Regions from separate parts of the Homo sapiens genome. Here region 1 is linked to region 2. A link means that fine-mapping ties the variant in region 2 to the expression of a gene that starts in the linked region. Tissue or cell type: whole blood. Region 2 holds a variant in brackets; the other region holds the start of a gene. All regions are shown on one strand. Distances are from middle to middle.

Evidence for each region. PIP is the estimated chance that this variant, and not a neighbour inherited with it, causes the effect.
Region 1: NINJ2-AS1 starts here. The variant in region 2 is fine-mapped to the expression of NINJ2-AS1 in whole blood (INTERVAL, PIP above 0.99).

The regions. Positions count from the first base shown.
Region 1 is chr12:626,816-634,919 of GRCh38, forward strand. It overlaps NINJ2-AS1 (NINJ2 antisense RNA 1), which reads left to right and starts at 4,076. Exons shown (of 5, transcript NR_122124.1): 1 at 4,076-4,170; 2 at 5,399-5,432; 3 at 5,694-5,801. The region is part of intron 1 of NINJ2 (ninjurin 2); the gene reads right to left. RefSeq lists silencers at 3,862-3,941, 4,002-4,101.
Region 2 is chr12:691,198-699,301 of GRCh38, forward strand. All of the region lies in intron 1 of LINC02455 (long intergenic non-protein coding RNA 2455), which reads right to left. All of the region lies in intron 1 of LOC101929432 (a long non-coding RNA gene), which reads left to right. Among named protein-coding and RNA genes, the nearest start is that of LINC02455, 21 kb to the right of the region's middle. The variant A/G (reference allele first, on the strand shown) is at 4,449.

The DNA of each region.
Region 1 (8,104 bases), 64 kb before region 2:
TAGCTTGCGCCTATAATCCCAGCACTTTGAGAGGTTGAGGCGGGAGGATTGCTTGAGCCCAGGAGTTCAAGACCAGCCCGGGCAGCATAGTGAGATCCTGTCTCTACAAAAATTAAAAGAGTACGCAGGTGTGGTAAGACATGCCTGCAGTTACAGCTACTCAAAAGGCTGAGACGGAAAGGTTGTCTGAGCCTAGGAGTTCGAGGTTGCAGTGAGCTATGATTGTACCACTGAACACCGGCCTGGGTGACAGAGCCAGACCCCATCTCAAAAAAAAATTCAATAGAATAATTTGTGTAAAGTGCTAAATACAGTAATGGCCCATAGCAAGCACCTAATAACTGTTAACTATTATTTTTGAATTAAATCATAGCATCCAACCTGAAAAGCAATATATGGCAATAAGGAATTTTCTAGGCCATGCCTTTAGAATTTTTATCATCCTTTTAGAATTGAAGCTTCTTGTTAGAAGATTCTGTCCTGTATTTTCATGGATGCCCCAACAGCCACCCTCCCTGCCTTGCAATCAAACAGGTGCTCAAATATTTTTTGAGAATATAATTAAGTACATTTCTACTTTCTAATTTCTAAATGAATGAAATAGAGAACTAGGAAACTTAGGACAGTAAGACTGATGTCAGCTGGGCAATCAGAGAAGGCTTCATGGAGGAGGTGAGACTGACGTAGCCCTTGACAAGTTCGATAGGATTTAGATGGATAAAGTGAAGCAAGGAAAATTCTAATTATTGGAGCCTCGAATGGGTTGGGTGTTCATGAGAGGCAGGGGCAGACTTCGTGGGTACAGCTGCAGCATACTGCACACACATTAAGGGTGGCACCTCTGTGCCCAGACCTGGGCTTAAGTGGAACCAGACTCGCCTGGGACAGACTTTGGGCGCAGTGACAGGAGCCCATCAGCTGCTCAAGAGACCCCTGCCAAAATCTCAACTGGAGCTGGGCACAGTGGCGCATGCCTGTAATCCCTGGGCACAGTGGTGCATGCCTGTAATCCCAGCTACTTGCGTGCCTGAGGCAGGAGAACCCGGGAAGTGGAGGTTGCAGTGAGCTGAAATTGGGCCACTGCACTCCAGCCTGAGCGATAGAGCGAGACTCCGTCTCAAAAAGAAAAAAAAAGTCTCAATCAGCTAGGCCAAGTCCTTCCTGTCCTGTCCCTGTCCCTGCCGCATCCTCCCCGCCCTGCCCCCGGCTCCTCTTTCACACCCTGTGCCAGACAGAAGGCCTGGGAGTGAAAAGACTGGCCATGGGGACAGAGAGCTGGATCCAAAGGTCAAGGCTGAGTTTGCCAGAGCCTGCAGGATCCCTGCACCGCTTTACTGGATCCCCAGGTTGAGCTGAGATGCTGCTCTGGGTGGAGAAGGGGCCATGAGCCTCTGGCAGGCCTCTGTGTCACACCTTTCCACCAGGGAAAACTGGGTGTGGATGTTTCCCCTTCGTATGTACTCTGAGATCTCTATGAGGAGTCTTCCTAGAGGGGAAGGGGGAAGCCTCCTCATAGAGATCTCAGAGTACATAGGAAGGAGCCAGGTCTTTCCGTTCTTCTGCGTCTCCTCACAGCGTCACCTACAAGGGTCTGGCACACAGTGGACACTCTTCCTGGCTTTTCTGGTACAGAGTGACCAACATAACAGTTAATAGCATTTCCTCATTTTACAGACAGGGAAAGCAAAAAACATAAGCATGGTAATGCATATATAATACGTGTCTATGGCAGAGGCATTCGAACCAGAATGACTCCATCTTGAATAGGGGCTGGTAAAATGAGGCTGAGACCTGCTAGGTGGCATTCCCAGGAGGTTAGGCATTCTTAGTCACAGGATGAGATAGGAGGTCAGCACAAGACACAGGTCACAAAGGCCCTGCTGATAAAGCAGGATGCAGTAAGGAAGCCTGCCAAAACCCACCAAAACCAAGATGGCAATGAAAGTGACCACTGGTTGTCCTCACTGCTCAGTATATGCCAATTATACATTAGCATGCTAAGAGACACTCCCACCAGCACCATGGCAGTTTACAAATGCCATGGCAACACCTGGAAATTATCCTATATGGTCTAAAAGAAGGAGGAGTCCTCAACTGGGGGAGGGGGAAAATCTCCATCTCCTTCCCAAAAAGCTCATGAATAACCCACCCCTTGTTTAGCATATGATCAAGAAATAACCATAAAAATAGCCAACCAGCAGCCCTCAGGGTTGCTTTGCCTATAGAGTAGCCATTCTCGTGTTTCTTTACTTGTCTAGCAAACTCGCTTTCACTTTACTTCATGGACTAGCCCAGAGTTCTTGTACAAGATCCGAAAAACCCTCTCTTGGGGTCTGGATCGGGACCCCTTTCTGGCAATGATACCCTCTTATTGTGGTAATTCATTTAATCCTCACAATGATCCTCTGAGGTAGGTGCCATTATTATCTTCATTTTACATGTGGGAAAACTGAAGCCGGAAGGATGAACAGCTTCCCAAGTTCACCGAAGGAGTAAGTGGTCCACAGGACTAGGAGCCTGGGATTTGCACCGAGGCAGTCTGGCTCTGTTCTCCATTGGCCACTGCGATGCCACCTGGGTGGAGGGAGCACAGGTCCAATGGCGGGGAGAGTACAGTACAACCCAGGATCCTGTCTTCCAGGTCTCTCCACGCAATTAACCTACTCAAAACTTCATGACAGTCCAGCAAGCTTGTCCAACCCACAGCCTGTGGGCCCCGTGCAGCCCAGGACGGCTTTGAACGCGGCCCAAAACAAATTCGTAAATTGTCTTAAAACATTATGAGTTCTTGGTTGGGCATGGTGGCTCACGCCTGTAATCCCAGCACTTTGGGAGGCCGAGGCAGGTGGATCACCTGAGGTCAGGAGTTTGAGACCAGCCTGACCAACATGGAGAAACCTCGTCTCTACTAAAAATGCAAAATTAACCAGGCCTGGTGGCGCATGCCTGTAATCCCAGCTACTCAGGAGACTGAGGCAGGAGAATCACTTGAACCTGGGAGGCAGAGGTTGTGGTGAGCCGAGATCGTGCCGTTGCACTCCAGCCTCGGCGACAAGAGCAAAACTCAAAAAAAAAAAAAAAATATATATATATATATATATATATATGAAGTTTCTTTGCGATTTTTTAAAAGTGTATCAGCCATTGTTAGTGTTGCTGTATTTTATGTGTGGGGCAAGACAATTCTTCCAATGTGGCCCAGGGAAACAAAACAATTGGACACCCTGGATGATGAAAAAGAGCACTCTTCAGCCCCTGCTGTCACCAAAGCCCCACCTCAGTTCTTGCCCTTAGGTAACGCCAAGATAGCAAAATGGAATTTTACCAAACCGCTCTTAGGTTCCTTCCCCAGGAGACCAGAAATGCCCTGGGGACTGCCTGCCTTTGAGGCAAATTTTTTTTCCTTTTTAAAGAAAGTGGTAAACATCTGAAAATAGAGTTTTTGAAAGAAAGTGACTCTTCAGTTGTAATTATAGCAGAGAGGGTCATTGCTTTCTATCAGCAAGAAAGCTGCTTCTATTTTTTTTTATTCTCTTTTTCTTGGTTTTTTGTTTTGTTTTGTTTTGTTTTGTTTTTTGAGACGGAGTCTCGCTGAGTTGCCCAGGCTGGAGTGCAGTGGTGTGATCTCGGCTCACTGCAAGCTCCATCTCCCGGGTTCAAGCGATTCTCCTGCCTCAGCCTCCCGAGTAGCTGGGACTGCAGGCTCCGGCCACCACGCCTGGCTAATTTTTTTTGTATTTTTAGCACAGACGGAGTTTCACCATGTTGACAGGCTGGTCTCGAACTCCTGGCCTCAGGTGATCTGCCCGCCTCGGCCCCCCAAAATGCTGGGATCACAGGCGTGAGCCACCGCTCCCCGCCGCTGCTTCTAAATACAGCCTGTATAATGCAAATCCCCAAAGAGGGCCAGCCTCTGGCCCCATTCAGCTTCCTCCCTCAGAGGCTGGGTGCGTGCGCCCTGGGCGGGGCGGCGGGCTCCCTCCGGAGAGGCCCCAGCCCGGCCTCGTGCCCCTCCCCAGCAGGCTTCCGGCCCTGCGCACAGACCCAAATGGCGCGGGAGGAGGAAGAAGGGGTCAGCTTCAAGCCTGACGTTCTAGGGGGGAGCCGCTTCTTAAGTACGTGCTAGGATCAAGGGTGCATTTGCAAACTTTTCAAAATGCCTTAGAGGAGGTAGGAGTCAAGCCCTTGGGATCTGGAGGGGAAGGAGGAGAGTCAGTTAAACCGCAGAAAGGTTGGTGGGGAGTGGGCTCAGTAATGGCCCCTGTCACAGCCTCGGGCCGGGACTCGCCAGCTCATTTTCTATTTCTAACTCAATGCCAGGCACTGAGCACTGTGCTCAACCTAGTAATTTGGAGACGGAGGTGGATATGCATATAACAGAACAGGATGCTCTCCGGACAAACGTTCTGAAGGAAAAGCAAACGGAAGATCCTCCCGCCTCTGCTGGGCAGTCTCTAATGACCCCTGGGGTATGTTCCAGACATGCGTGGGCATCTGCGAATTTACTCACCTGAGAGCTGCCTCTACCTTTTTTTGTTAAATTTTTATTTATTTATTTATTTATTTTGAGACGGAGTCTCCCTCTGTCACCAGGCGGGAGTGCAGTGGCGTGATCTCTGCTCAATGCAACCTCCGCCTCCCGGGCTCAAGCGATTCTGCTGCCTCAGCCTCCCGAGTAGCTGGGAGTACAGGCGCGCGCCACCACGCCCAGCTAATTTTTATATTTTTAGTACAGACGGGGTTTCACCATGTTGGCCAGGATGGTTTCTATCTCTTGACCTCGTGATCCGCCTGCCTCGGCCTCCAAAGTGCTGGGATTACAGGCGTGAGCCACCGCGCCTGGCCTGCCTCTACCTCTGATCCCTGGGATCAGAAATGAGAAATGCAAAGATTGTCCCTGTGTTATGTGTGTACTGTTTGTAATTGTAATTCACAATCCCCTTTCTTGCTCCTCACCCCATATTCAATTAAGAGAGAAAGGTGAAAAACACAAAGCACAAAATGTTTCCAGGAAACTATCTGAAACTCCTGGAAGGCTAGATTTAGGTATAAACAGAGTAGAACTCCAGATTTCTGCAATGCTCCTTAGGGGCTGAGCTTCCTGCATGCCCTTGACAATTAGAGGAGTTTTTTTTAATACTTCAAAATTATTCCAGAAAGGCATGCAGATGAGAAGATAACCAGGTTATGAGGAAGCCCAAGGTATTTGGTAAGGATGCTCAAGTTTTGGGGAAGGTCAGCTGAAATAGCAATTTGTGGGTGGACTATTAGCAGGGAGTTGACTGGAGAATTAATCAGACGTTGAAGGGACATGGGGGACCCGGGAGGATGAAGTCTGAACTCGGGCTCAGGATATGGAAAAAGATTGAGTAAAGCTGAGATTCCTGTGTGCTTAAAGTCCTAACCAGCCCCAGGGTGTCTGAGGCACGCTGGTAAGTAGAATCAGAGATTCCATTCAGCAAAAGCAGACAGGAAAACAAATCTCTTTTCTTTGTTTGTCCTGGTTGAAAACCAAACACGGTAGCCGTTTGATGAAATTCCAGTGTCAGGAGTGTTTGGGCAGGGAAGGGAGGGTAAAATTGCAGCTAGCCTCTGACCACAGGGAAATCAGCCTAACGGCTCCATTCAGGCCATTCTTCAGCCCTGCACTCTGGAATGTTCACAGGGTGTCTGTGCATCTCCCCTGATTCCAGCCCACAGGACACTTGCTCTCTCTTTCTTGTGACCCCAACATGTCAGCTGGCAAGACTCAACATTCCTGTCTGGGACTGAGCAGCTTGAACCACTTGTATGAGTCACAGGTAATTTTCAGCAGTGTGAGAAAACACTGAATGAAGAGAAGTACTAGGTCCTGAGGAGGCTTAGCTCTGGGGTAATGGAGATGGGGGTGGGGGTGGAGAGAGGGTTCTAAAGGTCAACTGCAATGTCCCCCAGTTTTCATGTATCTTCATCAACATAGACAAATCCCAGCGGATCTAAGCTTTTGAAAACTTGACCTTTTGTAAAAATGAGGAAACTGAAGTTATAGCCCTTTCTGGAGTGTGGAAGCTTTGGAAACATCGCACCACAGTGAAGCAAGCCGGGGAGGGTGCCAGCCCAAACCAGAACCAAGTGTGGGCATTTCATGCCATGAACACAAAAGGTTAGTGGGCCGGGTTGAGCTTGGGCAAGATCTCACAAGATCTTAGATCCAGTGTATTTTCTGTCAGTAGATTTCAATCAGAAAGGTCGTGAAATATACCTCAGCCTGGCATTGGGCTTGGGGCAAAGATCTAGGACTTTCTTTTCCAGGGAAGTTCTCTGAGAACTGAATCAATTCCTGCCCTCTAATCTATCTTGCATCCCTTCCTGAACCAACCTCCCTAAAACTGTGCCCCACTCCTCCATTAAAAAAAAACAAGGCCGGGCGCGGTGGCTCACACCTGTAATCCTAGCTCTTTGGGAGGCCGAGGTGGATGGATCACCTGAAGTCAGCAGTTCAAGACCAACTTGGCCAACATGGTGAAACCCTGTCTCTACTAAAAATACAAAAATTAGCCAGACATGGTGGCACGTGCCTGTAATCCCAGCTACCCGGGTTGCTGAGGCAGGCGAATCACTGGTTCCACCAGGAGGTGGACGCTGCAGTGAGCCGAGATGGTGCCACTGCATTCCAGCCTGGGCAACAGAAAGAGACTGTCTCCAAAAAAAAAAAATCATGTCATTTAAAAACTTCTGAGGCTGGGCCCAGTGGCCCATGCCCGTAATCCCAGCACTTTGGGAGGCTGAGGCAGGCAGATCACTTGAGGCCAGGAGTTCAAGACCAGCCTGGCCAACACGGCAAAATCCCGTCTCTACTAAAATACAAAAATTAGCTGAGCGTGGTGCCACATGCCTGTAGTCCCAGCTACTCAGGAGGCTGAGGCAGGAGAATCATTTGAACCCAGGAGGTGGAGGTTGCAGTGAGCCAAGACTGCCCCACTGCACTCTATCCTGGGTAACAGAGTGAGATTGTGTAAAAAAAACAAACCACTTTAGAGTTTTCCACTGTCTGCTAAATCAAGTACACATTCCTTTGCCTGGTTATTTAAAAATCCCCCATAATTCGGCCCCACCCCACCTATCCAGTTGTGCTTTCCCCCACACACACCGTCTGATCTGGTCAGAAAGGCCTTTGCACTGTCCCAGATAGCTTACTCATTCCTGCCTGTTTCATTCCCAGTTTTCTCCACATTCATTCCTGAATCTGAATTTATTCTTCTTTAACAAAACCAAAAGACCCTACCTTAGGATATTTGGCCAACTACTTCAGTTTGCATTTCTCCTTCTCCAAGTAATTACCAAGTCACGCCTTGATATATATACCTCCCCCAATAGACTATAAGCCACCATGAGTTCAGCACAACTTATGTAAGTTATAGTGCCTCACATAAGTTGTGCTCACTAAATAAATGTTGATTAGTTGCAGTTCTTTTTTTTTTTTTTTTTTTTTTTTTGCACTGTCTCCCGGGCTGGAGTACAATGGCACGATCTCGGCTCACTGCAACCTCCGCCTCCCAGGTTCACACGATTCTCCTGCCTCAGCCCCCCTAGTAGCTGGGATTACTGGCGCCCACCACCACAGCCGGCTAATTTTTTGTATTTTTAGTAGAGACGGAATTTCACCATGTTGGCCAGAATGGTCTTGAACTTCTGACCTCGTGATCCGCCTGCTTCGGCCTCCTAAAGTGCTGGGATTACAGGCATGGGCCACCGCGCCCGGCCTAGTTGCAGTTCTTTTTCTTCTGCAGTAAAGGCCAAACACACACAAAATCAGTCTCCTCCCAATCCTGACTTGCATCCTCTAAGTTTAGTAGCACAGAGAGAAAATGTAGAGAATGGTCGTACCCAAGATATTAAGGGGGGATGAGTTCAAGACAAAATAAAATGTTTGCCCAACGCTGACATTTTAAATGCTCATCTGAAAATTGGCACCTCCAGAATGTTGCCCTCTTCAGAGCATTCAGACCCAGGGCACCATAACATTAAATTCCTTTGTGTTTAAGACATTTCCTCTTAATTCTCTTTCTCTTTGAGGGAATGGTATAAGTACAAGAGGTTGGAAGAAACCATACACTTCTTTTTT
Region 2 (8,104 bases):
ATGTACATCTTACATATATTGATTGATGTCTCACATTTCCCTAAAATGTATAAAACCAGGCTATATCCCAAACACCTTGGGCACATGTGTCACAGGTGTGTCCTTAACCTTGGCAAAATAAACTTTCTAAATTGATTGAGACTTGTCTCAGGTACTTTTTGATTCACATTTTAGACACTTAGAAACATAAGACATAATCAATTTAAGAATTAAAAATATTACGCAATCGGCCAGGCATGGTGGCTCACGCCTGGAATCCCAGCACTTTGGGAGGCTAAGCGGGCGGATCACGAGGTCAGGAGATCGAGACCATCCTGGCTAACACGGTGAAATCCCGTCTCTACTAAAAATACAAAAAATTAGCCGGGCGTGGTGGCGGGCACCTGTAGTCTCAGCTACTTGGGAGGCTGAGGCAGGAGAATGGTGTGAACCTGGGATGTGGAGCTTGCAGTGAGCCGAGATCACGCCACTGCACTCCAGCCTGGATGACAGAGCAAGACTCAGTCTCAAAAAAAAAAAAAAAAAAAAAACAGATTACACAAATAAGGTCAATTATTATTCGAGACAGGATCTCACTCTGTTGCACTGGCTGAAGTACAGTGGTGCAATCAGAGCTCACTGCAGCCTCACCCACCCAGGCTCAAGCAATCCTCCCACCCCTGCCTCCTTAGTAGCTGAGACCACAGGCACATGCCACCATGCCTGGCTAATTGTTTTTTTCTTTTTTAGAGATGGGTCTTACTATGTTGCCCAGGCTGGTCTTGAACTCCTTGCCTCCCAAAGTGCTAAGATTACAGATGTAAATCATAGCAATTGGCCTTAACATAACATTATTTTAAGAGTTTAAATTCCTGAAAGCAATTTTGAAATTATTATACAAGTACCCTCCCCAATGTGTTCCTCAGTTGTCCTGGGTCCCAAGTACCCATATGGCACTCAGAATGGCTATAAAGGGCAGGGACCATCTGGGTCCTGAATTTACATACCAGGTATAGAGCTCAGGACAGGACCAAGATGTAAAGATGCCTAAAAAGGCCAACCCTTCCCAGCATGTCCCCAGGAGGCACAGCTGGGCCAGGGAGGACATATTGGGTTTGGCCCTGCCCTGCAGCTAGTGTCCTTGGTGCTATGGACATGCCAATGTCTTCAGGCCTCACCAAGGCCACCTGTCTAGACCCCAGAACCTAAAGGCTCAAAACCAAAGATGTTAGCTCACTGTAAAATGTGTGCAAGGATTGGGGGAAGCCCAGCAGCCAGCCCTCACCACTTTAGGTCACAGACAAATTCAGCAGGTATCAAAAATATCACAGAAGCAACAGGGTTTTTTTTGTTGTTTTTTGGGGTTTCTTTTTGAGACAGAGTCTCACTCTGTTGCCCAGGCTGGAGCCCAGTGGCACGATCTTGGCTTACTGCAATCTCCGCCTCTTGAGTTCAAGTAATTCTAGTGCCTCAGCCTCCTGAGTAGCTGGGATCACAGGTGTGTGCGACCACACCACACCCAGCTAATCAAGTAATCCATCCACCTCTGCCTCCCAAAGTGCTGGGGTTATAGGTGTGAGCCACCACACTCAGCTGAGGCAACAGTTTTATAATCTTAAAACATCTAGCAGAGACGGTATACATCTGTTTGACCAATAGACCACGTAAAAATGTTTGAACTATATTTAGTCTTCAAACTTTCTAATTTAATTTTAACAACAATTTAAAAACTAGTTTTATTTACCAAAGGTTACTAAAAATCGTGTGAACCTGAAAAGCATTTGGGCTTATTTACTTAGTTTATGAGTGCTCACTTATTTATAAGTCAACTTGGTATCATGTAGACAATATAAAAACACAGCATGTACACAGATACACATAAAAAATAGACACTGCTGGACATGGTGGCTGACGCCTGTAATCCCAGCACTTTGGGAGGACGAGACGGGCGGATCATCTGAGGTCGGGAGTTGAGACCAGCCTGACCAACATAGAGAAACCCCATCTCTATTAAAAATATAAAATTAGCCGAGCATGGTGGCACAGGCCTGTAATCCCAGCTACTTGGGAGGCTGAAGCAGGAGAATCGCTTGAACCTGGGAGGCGGAGGTTGTGATGAGCCGAGGTCGCACCACTGCACTCCAGCCTGGGCAACAAGAGCGAAACTCCATCTCAAAAAAAAAAAAAATAGACACAGACACAAATTAAGATTTTTATAGCTTTGGCTGTGTGCAATGGCTCACGCCTATAATCCCAACACCTTGGGAGACTAAGGCAGGTGGATCACTTGAGGTAAGGCGTTTGAGGCCAGCCTGGCCAACATGGCAAAAACCTGTCTCTTTTAAAGATACAAAAATTAGCCTGGCATGGTGGTGCGCACCTGTAGTCCCAGGTACTCAGGAGGCTGAGGCAGAAGAATCACTTGAGCCTGGGAGGCAGAGGTTGCAGTGAGCCAAAATCATGCCATTGTACTCCAGCCTGGGTGACAGACCGAGACTGTCTCAAAAAAAAAAAAAAAAGATTTTTACAGCTTTGAGTTTAAAATTTGTCATCAGACAGGTAAAACTCACTAGTTTAAAAGGACAGTTGGATTAAATTCTGTCTCTCTAAATGGAACAGATTAAAGTTTTCACAAGCCCTTATGGAGTTTCAGAGAAAACAGGGAAGCAAATTGCGTCTCAAAGGAGAGAGAATGTACGCATTTTCAAGAAGGAGTTTACATGTGTTAAAGGAAGATTAAAAGTGGATGTCAAGGTAATGCAAAATCATAGGAATTCACTAGAAAGTTGTGCAAGGAAATACATAGATGGGCCTAGAAAAAAATTCAGAAACTGAGGTAGGAGGCAGGACTCAACTCTGGAGGTGGGGCTTGGACACCAGACCAAACTGAAGACTAGCTCAAACAGGTCCAGGGAGGAAGCAGCTTTCCATAAGACACACCCACCAGTGTGCCATGTCAGTTTACCATCGCCATGGCAACACCCAGCCGTTACTGCCCCCTTTCATGGCAACAACCGGAGGACCCAGTAGTTACTCCCCTCATCTTAGAAAGTTCTACATAAACCACCCCTTAATTTGCATATAATTAAAAGTGGGTATAAAGATGAGAGCAGAACCACCTCTGAGCTGCTACTCTGCTACTCTGAGCTACTCTGGGGCAGCCCTGCTCCACAGCAGCAGCCCTTCTGCTGCTGCTGTACACGGCCACTTCAGTAAAAGTTGCTGAGTTCTTTCCTGGGCAAAGCTGGGAACCCTCCCGGGCTAAGCCCCGATTTTGGGGCTTGCCTGTCCCGAACCAAAACCTTTTCAAAGTAGCCAGCCAAATGCCAGAAAGTTGTATTTTGAAGACTAATCTAGTTGGATAGGTGGATTTTTAAATTTAGTTTTCCATTTCTTAACTGGATTACTGAGCTTAGGGTGGAGCCCATTAACAAATAGGGCCAAGAAAGTATTTGCTGTTCTCAGGGCCTAATAATTAAACACGTGAAAAGCAGGCACAGCTGGGAAGGTGATCTAGATCTTTAAAAATCAAGAATCCCACTTTTACTTTGAATCGCAGGTCCCCAAAAGAGGAAAGAATGCCATGGGTCCAGGGCCACACAATGTTTCCACAGTGCTCCTTGCAACATCAGCCCATTCTGTGGTCAGCCCATCCCCCACAGGAGGTCTTACCCCTTGTTGGAGAATGTTTTCATAACCTCCAAGCATTCGAACTTCACCTTTCTTATCTAAACACATAACGAAACAAGTAGCCCCCTGCAGTAATAACCATTCGCTGCATTTGCTGTCAGCTACTTCTAAAACTGCAGCTTTTGCCAGTCACTTGCCAGCCACTGCACACACAAAGGTCAAATTCTCTCTCAATACAAAGTAATCCTTTTGTACTCCAAAAGCCAGAGACCAGGAAACTCAATGCAAAAGAGAGCAGAGCTTTAGACCTGAGAAAAGTATGCCCACAATTCTCAGGACTCCACAAAAGAAAGAGAAGACCACAAAATAGAGCATGTGTGTGTGCGTGTGTGTGTGTGTGCATGTGTGTGCACACGTGTGCGTGCGTGTGTGCGTGTGTGGTTGCGTGTGTATGCGTCCGTGTGTGTGTCCGTGTCTGTGTGCGTATGTGCATGCGTGTGCGTGCATATTCATGCGCGTGCATGTGCGCGTGCGTGAGTGTGCGCTTGCGTGTGTGAGCGTGCATGTGTGTGCGTGTGCGTGTGTGGTGCCTTTTCCTGTGTTCCTCAAGAGGTCTCAGAAGTCTCTGCTAGAAGTCTCTAGATTTCTTCACGTGGTATCAAAGATGGCCAAAGAAAGGAGGAGCGGAAGTGGAAGGAAATGGAAGAACAAGGCCTAGCGGGGCTAATTTGGAAAGATTTTAAATTTTCTGAAAGACCAATGAAGTTTTACGTTTTTCTCAGCAAAATCATGCCAACAAGAAAGGAAGCAAATGGAGAGATTAAACTTTTTTTTTTCAA[A/G]AGGAGTTTCAGTTGACTGAAAAAGAATTCCCAGAAACGGGATCCCAGGGAGAAAAAGCAGAAAGGCCCTTTTTGTCAATAAAAATTATGCCCTGAATATCAGCTTTTAATTAAGCTGATTTCTAACCATAGAGCTCTTTAAAAAAATCTTTTCAAATCTTTTATCAGATTTCAGCCAGGACAAGTAGAAAGTAGGTCTCCCATTCTGTTTGGTTCTAAAATAGCTTTTTTTTTTTTTTCTGATCTATCAAAGGACCTCCGTTTTGGCTATTGTAATTTAGGGTCATCTGAAGTCCTGTGGGCCCATTTGTTCAAATGTCTGCAAGACAAAGCTCCGTAAGTGTTATACAGAATATCAGCCGATGTTTCCAAGGGAGGCTGCGTCGTTAGAGAGTCTTCAGACTTGAATAGGTTTGTTACCCATAATTTAGAGGCCTGAATCACTCACAGCCAAGTTCTGGGCTGTGTTTTGGGTCAAAATGTGCTGCTTGTGAGTGTGACTCCTTAGTGTGTCACTACTGAGTTGTGTCCACGTTTTTATGTGTCTCAGAAACATTGATCCCCAGAGGGTCACAAAGTCCTCACGAGTGCTAAGTGGCCAGCCTTTATGTGCACTTGTTGGCAGAGTGAGAGAGATTACGGATGTTCTCCTGAGAGAGGAAACCTTTTAAGGCACGAAAGTCCCAATACCCCCAGCAAGTCGCTAATTGTTTAGGGTGCCCTAACGGGCTGGAGGGAGCGAGTGCCTTTTATCTTTGGAGTGAAGAATCCACTCTCATATATTAGAAAAAGGGAATCTAAGAGAGGTTGGTCATGCATAAAAGTTTGATTTCCAAAATGAAAGGTCATGATGTAACAATGTCTTGGCCGAAAATGGAAGCAAACTGCTAACTCCAGACCTGTGAGTTGCCAGAAAAATATCCTGATCTCCTGACTTAAACAGGAAAGTCAGAGACAGAACCCTCATTCAGAGAGAGTCAAAGAGAAACCGCTCAAAGTCTAGACCTCCACCAAAGAAACGGGAGTCTGGATTCAGGAGAACTCACCCGCAACACCAATGAGACTTCTGAAGATGGAGAACGCAATGGGTTTGTGCTAGTACCAACCACTGCCTTCAGAGAAAAACAATGGGTGGTTGCTGTGGGGGATTCACTCTGAATCCTGCTGACTTACGCCAGCTATATCGACCTAAAGGAAAATACATTCTGAGTGGAGAGTTTACCTGGGCCAAGTTTGAGGACTGCAACCCAGAAGCATAGATTCAAGTTGCCCTGAATCTATCCTCCCAGTAGCAGCAGTTGTGTTTTTTTTTTAATCTAGTTATTTATTTATTGACTGGGTTATGAGACTGGCTAAGTTTTGTATTTTTGATAGAGATGGGGCTTTCACCATGTCACCCAGGCTGGTCTCAAACTCCTAGGCTCAAGTGGTCCACCCCCCTCAGCCTCCCAAAGTGCTGGGAATACAGGTGGGAGTCACTGCACCTGCCTACAAGTGGGTTTTTCTTTTTTCTTTTCTTTTTCTGGAACTTTATTTCTTCTAACAGGTACAAGTGGTAGTAGCCTTTTCCTTCTTTTAAAGGAAAAGAAAAAGGCAGTTCCTAAACTATTTACCAAGAATTTACATAAAAATAACCTAAGATATTGATTGGCTATACATTGTTATTTGTATCACACATCCCAGGAACATGAAGATAATGGGTGAGGCAGCTAGTCAGGAAACTATAGGGAAGAAAATAAAGAACAAAATCCCTTTAAACAATTGCATCCGGGGCATGGAGGTGGGGTTTGGGGGATATAGGTGGTTGTGGGGAGGGTGACTTAGAGACCCCTCTGAGCTATTTTTCTTTTTTCAAGTAGGAATAGAAGTGTGATGCTGGAGAAGGAAACCTGGACCAAAATGTGGTGTGGGTAACTTGTTTCTCTTTTCTGCGTCTCAACTTCCTCCAGCTCTATTTTTCAGAGAAGGAAGTTGCATGGGAAAGGAAATGGCAATCAGGTTTGTCTAGCTGAAGCAGTCTAAGCTGAAGTATAAAAAAAATTAAGGTGGGCTGGAGCGAGAGGAAGGCTGGGGAAAGCTGGTGAGGTATCTTGAAACCTGTGTTAAGGAATTTCCCTGGCTTAGAACAGGGCAATTGGTTTTTACCATTAAAATCCCTTTGGTTTTTACCATTAAAATTCCAAAGTTACAGCCCTCTCTTCCTCTTTGTAAATGTTGGTTAGCCACTACTGGACATTACCAATCCTCAGGGGAAACTAGTTGAGATTAGAAGAAACAATTGTAAAAAGCAAAGTAGAGGTTCCTCTTCAAAGACTTTCCTCCCCATCTAATTAGGAATAAATAGTAACTTCTCTTAGAAGCAAAATTTATTCAAAGACCTGTGTTAATATTCTTAAATATCTCTAGCCATAATAAAGAAATCAATGTACTTTATGTTCTTAGTTCCCACAATTTAGCCTAAATATTTGCCCTGCCATGCTTCTACTGGTCCAAGCAAGCATTAGGTCATAGCCTGTTCTTCTTCCTTATTTGAAGGTGTTTTTACCTTTCTCAGCATTCCACAAGTTACTTCCTCCTTCCTTTGTCCTCTTCTGCCTTTGCCTCTCTTAAAAAGTTCTAAGTTGCTAGCCAACTGGGACAAATACAGAATGTGAGGTCCTGTTCCAGCCAATGGAAACCGACACAGCAGTAGGGTGGACGCATCAGATTATAAATGACCCTGTCTCCTTTGTTCAGTGTACTCTCGTGGCAAAACTGCTGGCGAGTGTACCCTTTCTGCAGAAAGTGAAAATGGCCTTGCTGAGAAAATTAAATTTATGTTAAGTGCTATTTCTTTACAGCACCAGGGAACAAGCATTTCTAACACAACTTTACACACTGGTAGTAATAGCAGGTCTGCAAGGTTGACTCCAGCAGAGAAAGTCAGGAAGACAGTTAGTGCATGCAGCCAAAGAACTACAAACATAGGGAGGAGCCGGAATAGTCAATTTCAAAGAAAAGATCCTTCCAGTACACAGAATTACAATCTCTGAACACAACTCCCTGGCCTCAATTTTGATTTTAATTGACTGCATGGCTCAAGATAAAGGGCTGGTAAATTGAGACCTGAATTCTCCTTCAGCAACAACCAGGGAGAGCTGGAGGAATGGGTGGTAGTATACTGTAATCACCCATTTTTCAAATTAAGTCTTTAAGGCCCTAGTAAGCCAACTGAAAGGAATTCTTAGTTCCTCAGGCTAAAAGAGCACAGAAGTTGCTATGTGGGATGGGCACCTAGTGCCTCACGCCTATAATCCCAGCACTTTGGGAGGCTAAGGAGGGAGGATCACTTGAGGCCAGGAGTTTAAGACCAGCCTGGGCTGGTGAGACTGTCTCTACAAAAAATAAAAAAATTAGCCAGGCATGGTGGCACATGTCTGTAGTCCCAGATACTTGGGAGGCTGAGAAGGCAGGATTGCTTGAGCCTAGGAGTTCGAGGCTACAGTGAGCTATGATTGTACCACTGCACTTCAGCCTGGGTGACAGAGCAAGACCCTGTCTCAAATAAATAAATAAATAAATAAAATTAGCCAGGTGTGGTGACACATGTCTGTAGTCCTAGCTACGTGGGAGGCTCAGGCAGGAAGACTGCTGGAGCCCAGGAATTTGAGGCTGCA